Regions from separate parts of the Homo sapiens genome. Here region 2 is linked to region 1. Evidence: fine-mapped expression QTL. A gene starts in region 1. The other region holds a variant in brackets. All regions are shown on one strand. Distances are from middle to middle. Region 1 holds the start of YWHAB (tyrosine 3-monooxygenase/tryptophan 5-monooxygenase activation protein beta). Region 2 overlaps WFDC3 (WAP four-disulfide core domain 3).

Region 1 (5,377 bases):
AAGTTTCTCTCTATTTACGTAGATATATTTCCTCATTTCCTCCCTGCCAACAAAATGAGAAAAATCTGAACATCTACTGATGAAGTCGTAAGATAAACAAAAATTAATGGTCACAATCAAATTCTATTAGATGAAGAACCTAAAATTCTATGCCAAAGTAACTGATGACTTTCTCCCTAGTATGAAGCAAGTACTAGAAAAACTGGATTGTTCACAAGCTTGCTTCCTGATGCATGCTAGCAATTATCATCCCTACAGGCCAGAATGGGTATATGCTCCACAATAAATTGTCCTGTATCTATCTTCAAAAATAGCTAATATTCCCATTCAAACGTTTACTTTATTAGGATTGGTGTAAAGAAAAATTAAGGACTAAATGGTGTTCACATAAAACATATACATGTGCTGTCTCTACCACATGCAGAAATCTATAATATCATTCCTCAGAACCAGATCACCTGGTTTCATTCCTGGTTCTGGCACTTACCTTGCGCTGTGTGTGAGACCTCGGGAAAATTATCCTTCTCAGTGCCTTAGTTTCCCCATCTGTAAAATGGGGCTAACAGTCTTACCTTTCATTGGTTGTTATGAAGACTGAGCTAATATGCTTAAAGTGCTTAAAAGAAAGCTTAGCACACAGTAAGTACTGTAAGTGGTAACTATTATTATAGACTAATTGTCTGATACCACCTCATCAGTTGGTGAATAAATCACAAATGGATGGATTCTATATAAATGTCCATGAATAGCATATATGCTATGTCTAATCTATACACGTGTATATTCATGCAGATGGTCAATAACATCTATTGAACCCCAACTATATCCCAGATGCTTATTTTCATTATTGAGCTTGTCGCAACAAAAATATATCAAAAGCTGCATTACCATTTGTGCTATATAGACGAGAAAATGATTCAGAAAGACTGGATTTGCCTATATGCAAAATAAAGTCCTATAATAATATACCATTTTTTGAAAGCAACATGTGTACAAAGCAGGGTTTAGTGTCATCAGATGTTAACTGGAGAGAAAAAGCCATTAATAGTGAACTCTGATTAAAAAACAAACCAAAAGCTTATATTTAACAATTTACAGTTTATAAAAAAGGCTTAATGATAACCCTGGAAATAAGAAAACCAAGAACCAGAGATTAACATGCTGAAGATTCAGAAAGCTAGAAAATATTGCAGGCAAGATTTCAACCAAATTTACCTGACTCCAAGTCCAGTGCTCTTCCTGCTTCTCTATCCACAGCCGAATGGGCAAAATGCACTTTTTGTAGCGGCCCAAATCTCTGGAGACTCTGCCTAGAGAACCAGCATCATGGGAATTTGCTCAGCCTGGTTTTATAGAGGCTGCCTCCCTGATCTATAGCGCTCCAATTCTAAAATGGCTTCAATATAACAAGCACTGCAAGATGTGAAATGTACAAAAGATTACAGGGTAGGCGTCATACTCCAGGGGCTGGCAATCCATAAATATTTGCTACTGATGAATGAGGATATTCAGTTTGAAAAAAACTAGGTGTATAGTCTAGGCCAAATCACCTCATTTCTCATAAAGACTTCATCTGCAAGATAGGTGAATGGTTTCTTATCTCATTGGAAGGACAGGCCAGGAAAATAATTCTGCAGTTGCTACAGGATTATTAGCCTTCCATTTTGAAAGCCACACTTAAATTTCTAACTTAGGTCCAATAAGATTGACAGGTTTTACACTCACACACCGTGTGTTGCCAAGGACAGGGATCCAAGAAAAATGAGGGCTCAAACAAATGAGATATCCCTAAGTAAGAAATAGGGTACACTGGAAGCAGTCAAGAAGAAATTCACCAAGAACAAATACTTATACACATTTCCAAATGAAAATGCAAAAGCTGCAGTGTCCAGGTCTACAAACTGCATCTGTGTCTGGCTTCACATGAACTGACAGAATGAGAAATGCAGACAATTTTCATATTCTTATAAGTGCTTCACCTTTCTCTTTTGGTTCCCGAGGCTGATTTTATGTTCATAGCATCATCTTGCCAAATTCCATCTCCCACACAGGGCAAGCAAAATCAGGACCTGATGCTATCTAGCCTTACCAAAGAGAAATGCAATGAAGGCAACGACAAGAAACATGTATTTTACAGAAAGGTTGGCAAATTGCTTACCAAGGCTGCCACCTCTGAAAACCCCATTATATGGGAGTTCTCCATTTGCGGCAAAGATGCACTCACCTTCCCACCTCTTCTTCCCTCCGCTCCCCACCCCCCGACCAGGAAGCCACCGGGCAAATTTCAGACCGAAAAACGTGCTAACACACAATATGGGGGAATTTGGGGTAAAGACACAAAAGAATCTGGCATTAAATGACGGTAAATACTGTGAGAAAATACTCCGATTCTCACCCCCTGATATTTTTTCCTGGGGATCCGGCCTGACTCAGTAACCGGCTCCAACAAACAGATTTTCTTGATTCAAACCCAATTCCCTTCCTAGGGAATCTTGGGTCCTGCCAGGCTCCATAACCAGTGAAGGATGATGAAATGGTTTTACTGCAAAATGGGAGGGGGTTCCCCCACTGCTGTCTCCCAAGGTTAAACCCCTTACTCATCCAGGAGGAGCCAAACACGGGGACTGGGGCTAGAAAACTCATCCGCGTTTGATTAAATTTTAATTTCTGGAAACCAGAAAGCACGGAGCAGAGGTGACAGGGCTGAAGGGGACGTTCTTGCCGACCAAGACGCAGGGAGGGGTCGCGTGGGGCCCGAAGCAGATAGTGAGGGAGGGTCCGGGATCCCCGGCTCCGCTGTCCCTTACGGCACAGTACGGAGTTGCACCCCGCCCGGCCGGCAGGACCTCAGGCGGCCCGAGCCTCTCCAAGAGGTAAAGGGCCCGGCCCCGGAAACAGGGAGGGGCCGCTGCGAGGTCTGGCCTCGCCGCCGGCGGCCGCGCGGAGCGAAAGAGGCAGCGCGCCGCTACCCCACGGGGCCCACCCACTGGGCCGCCGTCGTCGCAGCAGCCAGAGAGGGGCTTCGAGTTTGGGCCCCCGGGGGCCCCGGTCGGACCCCGCGCCGCACTCACCGTGGGAGGGCTGCAGGGAACAAAGACCCTTCCGAGCGAAGCTCCGAGCGAGATGACCTCTTCCTTCCTAAGCCCACTACTCAGGCGGCGGCAGCGGTGCCTGCAGTGGCTGCAGCGGCGGCGGCGGCGGCGACTACCCCGGCTCCGGAATCGGCGGCGGCGGTGGCGGTAGCTCCACTTCCGCTCCGATCGCCACTTCCGCTCCGGTCCTGGCCGCGCCCCGCCCCAAACCGTGTTCTCATTGGGCAAGCGAGGCACGGGGTTGCCACGGCCCCACGGGAGGGGCGCAGACGGAAGGGAGGAGGAAGAAGAGCGAAAGGCAGGGTTGCAGGGGCCGGGGCAGGGCGGATGGCCGGGGGAGGGACCCAGGAGGAGGTGGGCGGAGAAGAAGGAAATGGGGCGGGGGAGCGGGAAAAGGAGGTGGGAGGAGAGAGGGCGGAGCTGGGGGTGGTCAAGATACGGGCTGTGTGGGAATAAGGAGGACTAGGAGTGTGGTCTGGATGGGGATTGCCCTTTCTGCTGGGACTGGAAACGCGCCAGGGCCAGTCCCGGAGATTCGAGGTTTAGCAGTTCCCCCTCCACCCCGAAAGTAATCCTCACTGGGTCGGAGGCCGATGTCAGTCCTCTTACTGTGTGCTTTGGTAATGCTGGAGCCAGGGAAGAACAGAAATTGCTCATCCCTCAATGTTCATTTAATCCTTTCAATCCTTCAGGGTACTTACCTTTTCCTTCTTTGGTAGACTGAAGAGGCCACGTGAAGTGCCAGGAATCCAATGCACAAACGTCTTTTTAAAAAACCTGTGTAGGGTCGAGCGCAGTGGTTCGCGCCTGTAATCTCAGCACTTTGGGAAGCTGAGGTGAGAGGATTGCTTGAGGCCGGGAGTTGTAGGCTGCAGTGAGCTATGGTCATGCCACTGCACTCCAACCTGGGAGACAGAGTGAGACCCTGTCTCCAAAAAAAACCCACAAAAATCTGTGTACATGATTTCTTCTTTAAGATGCCCCCTCGTTGAGGAAGTTCAGGGAAGGAAACAGGCCTCCATGGCTCCCCTCCCCTCCATGACTGCTCTCACAATTACCAACATTCTACTCCTCTGAAGGTAGTTGATTTTGTTTTGTTTTGTTTTGTTTTGTTTTCTGTTTTTGAGACAGAGTCTCTTTCTGTCGCCCAGGCAGTGTCACAATCTTGGCTCACTGCAATCTCTGCCTCCCAGGTTCAAGCAATTCTCCTGCCTCAGCCTCCTGAGTAGCTGGGATAACAGGTGCATGCCACCACTCTCGGCTAGTTTTTGTATTTTTAGTAGACACGGGGCTTCGCCATATTGGCCGGGCTGGTCTCAAACTCCTGACCTCAGGTGATCCACCCGCCTCAGCCTCCCAAAGTGCTGGGATTACAGACATGAACCACCTCGACCGGCTTCAAGGTAGTTGATTTTTAAACTCAGTCCTTCAAAATGCCTCTCGCCTTCCCTCTCTCCTGTTCATTTATTCTTTCAACAAATGTTGAACAGGCTTTTTGCTTAGTGCTGGAGACACAGCAATGAACAAGGCAGGTGGGGCCCTGCTGTCTTGGAGTTTGCAGTCGGGTAGGAGAAAAAGCCAAGTAAATAGGCCTTTGCCGTCTTGCCTTTACCCTTACTTAGCTAAATGACAGACTTCTAATTCACCATTTGGTCTCAGCCTCGCCCGTCAACTGCCAAGTGATCTTTTAAAAATACCATTCTAATCGTGTCCTGTTCTTGCTTAAATTATTTAGTGTGCACTCAGACCTAGATGACAATATATAAGTTCCTTGAGTGTGACAATCAGGGTTCTCCAAAAGCTGCCCTTATCCTTTAGCTGCTATTTCTCCCCCATCGTAAATACCCCAATTCAATTGGATGATTCCTTACCCTCCCAATATGCCATCTCCAGTATTTCTAAGCAGTTTGACTTAGTTGCCAACACTTTTTTAAACTGAAAAGTTTCTGTGTGAACAGAAATCTGCCTCTCTGCCTTGTCTGGTAACACTGTGTCCACATTTCTGTGTGGCAACAATTGGCTGAAGCCAAGGAGTGGCTGCCTGTTCTAGACTGGGCATGGACTTTCCCAAATGCCAGGGACCCTTCTCGACCTGAGTCTGCTTTTGTCACTTATGTTATCTGTCATGTAGGCATGTGTGCCAGTGACCCCTGTACTGTGCCACCTTTTAAGTTGAACAAGATTGAGAACGTGTTGTGTAACGTAAACAGCATGGTTTTGGGTCAAAACCATTGGATTTGAATCCTGGAGAGGTTAGTGCAAAAACTTCCCCATGAGGATCGTCT
Region 2 (5,377 bases), 890 kb before region 1:
CACCTTTCTCTTTACTTAAGAAGCTTGAAATAAACACTAAGATGAATGAGTCATGGTGAATTGGTTTGGTTTGGATGTGGCCTTCTTTGGGTGTGCCTGCGCCTGGGGCCCTGGCCAGTTGCCTGCATGTTTTAAGGATAGTGTAGTAGAAAAAGTACTTTACCGCAAATCAAGAGGCTGAGTGTTGTCCTGCCTTGCTGCTGACTCACTCTGTAGTTCTGGGCAAGATTCTTCTCTGAGTTTATTTTCATAGGAAATGTGTTTGGCTGCACACAACAGAAAATTAATCATATAGGGGTTTGTTTTTCTCATATAACAAGAATTCCTGAGGCTGGGATGGTGGCTCCATGATGCTAACAAGGATGAAACTATTTCCCTCTTTCTCCTTTGCAATTCTTTTTTTTTTTTTACATTTACATTTTATTATTTATTTATTTTAAAAGACGATGGTTAGATGCCACAAAGTAGGTGGCAATGCTTGAACCATATGCATGTTGTCAGGCCCAAAGGCCTCTTCCATCCTTGTCGAGGGGAGTGCTAACCTTCTCTCCTTTCATACAACACCTCTTTGCAATTCTTGACCATTTCGTTATGCTGAGTTGCCTCCTCATTGAAAGAAGGCTACTCTGCCTCTCTGTGTAATGTCTATCTTTGGACTGGAAGAAGAAAGAAGTGAGGGAGCAGTTTGAAAGGGGTATTCCCTGTGTCAGGAATACAAAAGTTTCCCAGTTTATGTCCTAGTTTGTGGTCACCCCTTGTTGCAAGAGAGTATGGGGAAACAAATCATTTTAGCTGGACCTGTTGCCTCTCAGAATAAACTTGGTATCCAGTATCTATTGCTGCATAAGAAACCATCTCCAAACTTCATGACTTAAAGCAATATAGTTACTCTTTCTCACAGTTGTGTAGGTTGCCTGAGCTTGGCTGGGCAGTTCATATACCCACATGATGTAGCTGTGGTCATTCATTTAGCTGCATTCATCTGGGAGCTTAGCAGGGAGCTCAACTGGAGCCACAACGTCCAGGATGACCTCTCTTCTAGGTTCTGTCTCCATGGGGCATCTCATCATCCCATAGCGTAGTTCAAGCTGCTTTATAGCATGGCGGCTGGTTTCCAAGAGGAAGTATTCTGAGTGGACAAGCCCCAGTATGCTAGTGCTTATCAAGGCTCTGCTTACATTACATTTGCTAATGTCCCATTGGTCAAAGCAAGTCAGATGGTCAAACCCAGAGTAGGTATGGAAGGGGACTACAAAAGGGCCTGAATCCCAGGAGGTAAAGTTCACTGGAGGCCACCATTGTAAATGTCTGCCACAGGGAGAATTCAGGGAGAATGTTGGCCACAGTGGGTTAGACCTGAACAGTGTTTTTCAAACTGTGAGTCCTGAAAGCAATTTAGTAATTAGGAAAAATAAGAACTAGAATATAAAATATCAGGGTGGGCTGGGTGGGGGGGCTCACGCCTGTAATCCTGGCACTTTGGGAGGCTCAGGCGGGAGGATCACTTGAGCCAGGAGTTTGATATCAGCCTAGGGAACATAGTGAGACTCTGTCTCTACAAAATAAATAAATAAAATTACCCAGGCCTGGTGGCTTGTGCCTCTAGTCCCAGGTACTCAGGAGGCTGTGGTGGGAGGATCCCTTGAGCACAGGAGTTTCAGGCTGCAATGAGCTATGATTGTGCCACTGTACTTTAGCCTGGGTGATACAGTGAGACCCTGTCTCTACAAAATAAATAAATAAATAAGCCAGGCATGATGGCATGTGCCTGTAGTTCTAGCCACTCAGGAGGCTGAGGTGGGAGGATCCCTTGAATGCAGGAGTTTGAGGCTGCAGTGAGCTATGATTATGCCACTGCACTTTGGCCTGGGCAACACAGTGAGACCCTGTCTTAAAAAAAATCAGATGTATTGCAGATACATGATACACATAAATATTTACATTATATATGTATATAAATATATAACTATATATAAACATACACATGGGACACAATGAAAAATGTGTTTCATATTGTGAGCGTCTCTGGGCTCCAATGCTTTGATTATGTAGCAGAGTTTGGTGGTGAATGTCCCGCTGACCCCCTTCCGTGTGAGGAGCTGTGTGATGGGGATGCATCCTGTCCCCAGGGGCATAAATGCTGCAGCACCGGCTGTGGCCGCACCTGCCTCGGAGACATTGAGGGAGGTATGTTGGCTCTTTTGGGAAGAAATCCTTGAGTGTTTCCTGAGAAGAGTGCTTCTCTTTCCCTTCCTGGGAGGAGCTAGGATTCTCATCCTTCCTGTCCCTCTGGTCCCCCAACCCAAAGCAACCCATTCTTCTAGGGCCGAGGGGCCCTGTCGACATTAAAAGAACTGGGGGAAGGCACTGTGGGGCAGTAGGAACTACTTGGGCTGGAAGACAGACAGTGTGGCTTTTGGTCTTGATTCTGCTGAGGTTTTGCTTTGTGACCTTAGGTAAGCAAACCCGTCTTTTTGAGCCCAAATTTCTTTATCTGTAAAATGAAGGAGTTGCCCAAGATCCTGATTTTCAGATCTAATTTTTAACAAAAAGCTTCTCCCCTGCCCCAAATGAAATCTTAGTTGGAAACACACACACACATATATATATATATATATATATATATTTTTTTTTTTTTTCTTTTTTTTCTTTTTTTTTTTTTTTGAGACAGAGTCTTGGTCTGTACCCCAGGCTAGAGTGTAGTGGCGTGATCTTGGCTCACTGAAACCTCTGCCTCTGGGGTTTCTTCTGCCTCAGCCTCCTGAGTAGCTGGGATTACAGGCACACGCCACCATGCCCAGCTAATTTTTGTATTTTTAGTAGAGATGGGTTTTCATCATGTTGACCAGGCTGGTCTTGAACTCCTGACCTCGTGATCTGCCTGTCTCGGCCTCCCAAAGTGCTGGAATTACAGGCGTGAGCCACCACGCCCAGCTGGAAACA[C/TACACACAC]ACACACACACACACACACACACACACACACACACACACAGAGATAAAAGCATTCCTGTTCCAATGCCTTTTTTTCTTCAACATTTTAAAAAAACAAATATTTTTGAGTGCCAGGCACTGTGGATCTCCATTAAAGAATCATTGACCCTTGTGCTATCTTAGTCCCTTTAGATTCCCAGGCAGTGCTCAAGGCTGAGGACAGACTCTTGTCCGTATGTAGCTTATAGCCCATCAGGCAAGATAGACATATTCCTTTTAAATAAGGGATTATGATAAAGTTTGATGAGAGGAAGCATACAGGGTGCTACAGGAGCACAAAGCAGGGACATCAAACCTTGTCTAGGGTGGCAGAGGAGGCCACCGTGAAGAAGTGACACTATGAATCCAGAGCATAGGGGGAGGGGGAGTGGTCTGGGAGGCTTGCCCCTGCCACACTTCACCCACCCCCACCCCAAACCTGCAGAGGTGTCAATCCCTGAGTTACCTCTTGGGAACTCCCTTTGGGGCACCATTTGAAAACTCTGGGCTCAGAGGTCTCTTGGGTTCCTAAAGATTCTGAGATCCTCCAGCGCCATGGTTTCCCAGCCAGTTTAGTTGGGTCTAGTGAGGGTCAGGGGTTGATTGACCTAGAGCCTCTGTGTGTAAGTTCACGATGGGAACATGGAGATGGCAGAGCTGATGCCCTGTCCCTTTTCCTGTGCCTGTTGTTCCCACAGGGCGGGGCGGTGATTGTCCAAAAGTTCTGGTGGGCCTGTGCATTGTTGGCTGTGTGATGGATGAGAATTGTCAAGCTGGAGAAAAATGTTGCAAGTCAGGCTGTGGCCGCTTCTGTGTCCCACCAGTCCTGCCCCCAAAACTGACCATGAACCCCAACTGGACTGTGAGGTCTGATTCCGAATTAGGTGAGTACAGTCCATTGTCATCAACAATAACAGACAACTGCTATGTGCAAAGCACTGGCTTAGGTGCTGGGAAGGGGACTTCAGAAGGTCAGGAAAAGTCTAGTTGGAGAGAAAGAACCTATGTCCCAGATGAAAACCCTCATACAAACAGTACAGGCTTACACCTGTTCTCAGGTGTGGCAAACCTGTGTCCCAGATGAGAACCCTCATATAAACAGTACAGGCTTACACCTGTTCCCAGGTGTGGCTCCCTGGGAAGGTCTCTGTGGGAGAGGTGGGATTTGATTGAGGTGCTTAAGGCTAGGCAGATGCGACAAAGGGAGGATAGCACAGGGACATGCCAGATAGGCAATCTGGTGATTGCTGGCAAAGGAACACAGGGTGGGAATGTGTGGGATATGTTTGGGAGGTGAGGAGTGGGGGCAGGGTGGGTAAAGGAACAGACGTATCTCCAGTTTTTTTTTTTTTTTTTTTGAGATGGAGTTTCACTCTTGTCACCCAGGCTGGAGTGCAATGGCACAATCTCGACTCACTGCAACCTCTGCCTCCTGGATTCAAGCAATTCTCCTGCCTCAGCCTCCCAAGGCTGGGATTTACAGGCGCCTGCCATCATACCTAGCTGATTTTTGTATTTTTAGTAGAGACAGTGTTTCACCATGTTGGCCAGGTCTGGTCTCGAGCTCCTGATCTCAGGTTATCCACCCACCTTGGCCTCCCAAAGTGCTGGGATTACAGGCATGAGCCACTGTGCCCGACCATAATTCCAGTTTTTTATAACAGGAGATACAAGGTTGACATCTGAATAATAAGAGCCTTCAGTGCCAGTTTGGATTGGATTGTCTGGGAAGCAAGGAGCTATTTAAGACTTTTGAGAGCAATATAGGCCAAGCTTTCCTAGGGTGGAGGGAAAACATTTCAGGTAGCTGAAGCCAGGAGGGCACAGCTGTGACTTGATGTTTCTTCTACTTGCAGAGATCCCGGTGCCCTAGCTGTGCTGATTTGTCTGGAGCTTCTTTGGTAATTCTGGAAGCTTTTCCTGGCAGTCAAGAGAGGGTGACATCCTGGGGCTTGTGACATTTCCAGGGGCACTCATGGCCCTCTCTGCTCTGCTTCTCCTCCTGCCGCTGACCAGAGCATGGGAAATAGCCCTGGATTGGGTAGTGGGTGTGTGGTGCTTCTCTTTCCCGATAAAGGCTGGTGCTGACCTCTTGTTTGTGCTATTTGAGGGCTCAGATGATATGGGAGAGCTAGAGGGTATGTGTGTGCCTGTGGGATTGTACGATTTACATATTTAGGACAGATGGGTAATCCATTCTTTGTGAGGACACTGAAAATGGGTTTTGGTTGGGTGTGGCTAGGGAAGAGATGGGTGGAAACTAAACTGAGAGTGACTTGCCATAGATGTCTTTCTCAAGCCCTGGTGGGGGTGGAGGTCAGTCTCTTTTAGACCTGCTGACCTTCTTTCTTTTATTGGAGAATGTGGGTTGAGGGTGGAAACTAAACTGAGAGTGACTTGCCATAGATGTCTTTCT

Evidence for each region.
Region 2: its variant is fine-mapped to the expression of YWHAB in lymphoblastoid cells after a statin (CAP, PIP 0.93).

What each region holds. Positions count from the first base shown.
Region 1 is chr20:44,883,581-44,888,957 of GRCh38, reverse strand. YWHAB (tyrosine 3-monooxygenase/tryptophan 5-monooxygenase activation protein beta) reads right to left here and starts at 3,253. Exons shown (of 6, transcript NM_139323.4): 1 at 3,072-3,253. RefSeq lists silencers at 2,960-3,509, 3,570-3,629 and an enhancer at 2,907-3,523.
Region 2 is chr20:45,773,885-45,779,261 of GRCh38, reverse strand. WFDC3 (WAP four-disulfide core domain 3) reads left to right here. Exons shown (of 7, transcript NM_080614.2): 5 at 2,053-2,187; 6 at 3,660-3,845; 7 at 4,818-5,049. The coding sequence ends at 4,834. It also overlaps the pseudogene RNU6ATAC38P. Among named protein-coding and RNA genes, the nearest start is that of WFDC3, 15 kb to the left of the region's middle. RefSeq lists enhancers at 1,018-1,312, 3,516-3,685. The variant C/TACACACAC (reference allele first, on the strand shown) is at 2,944.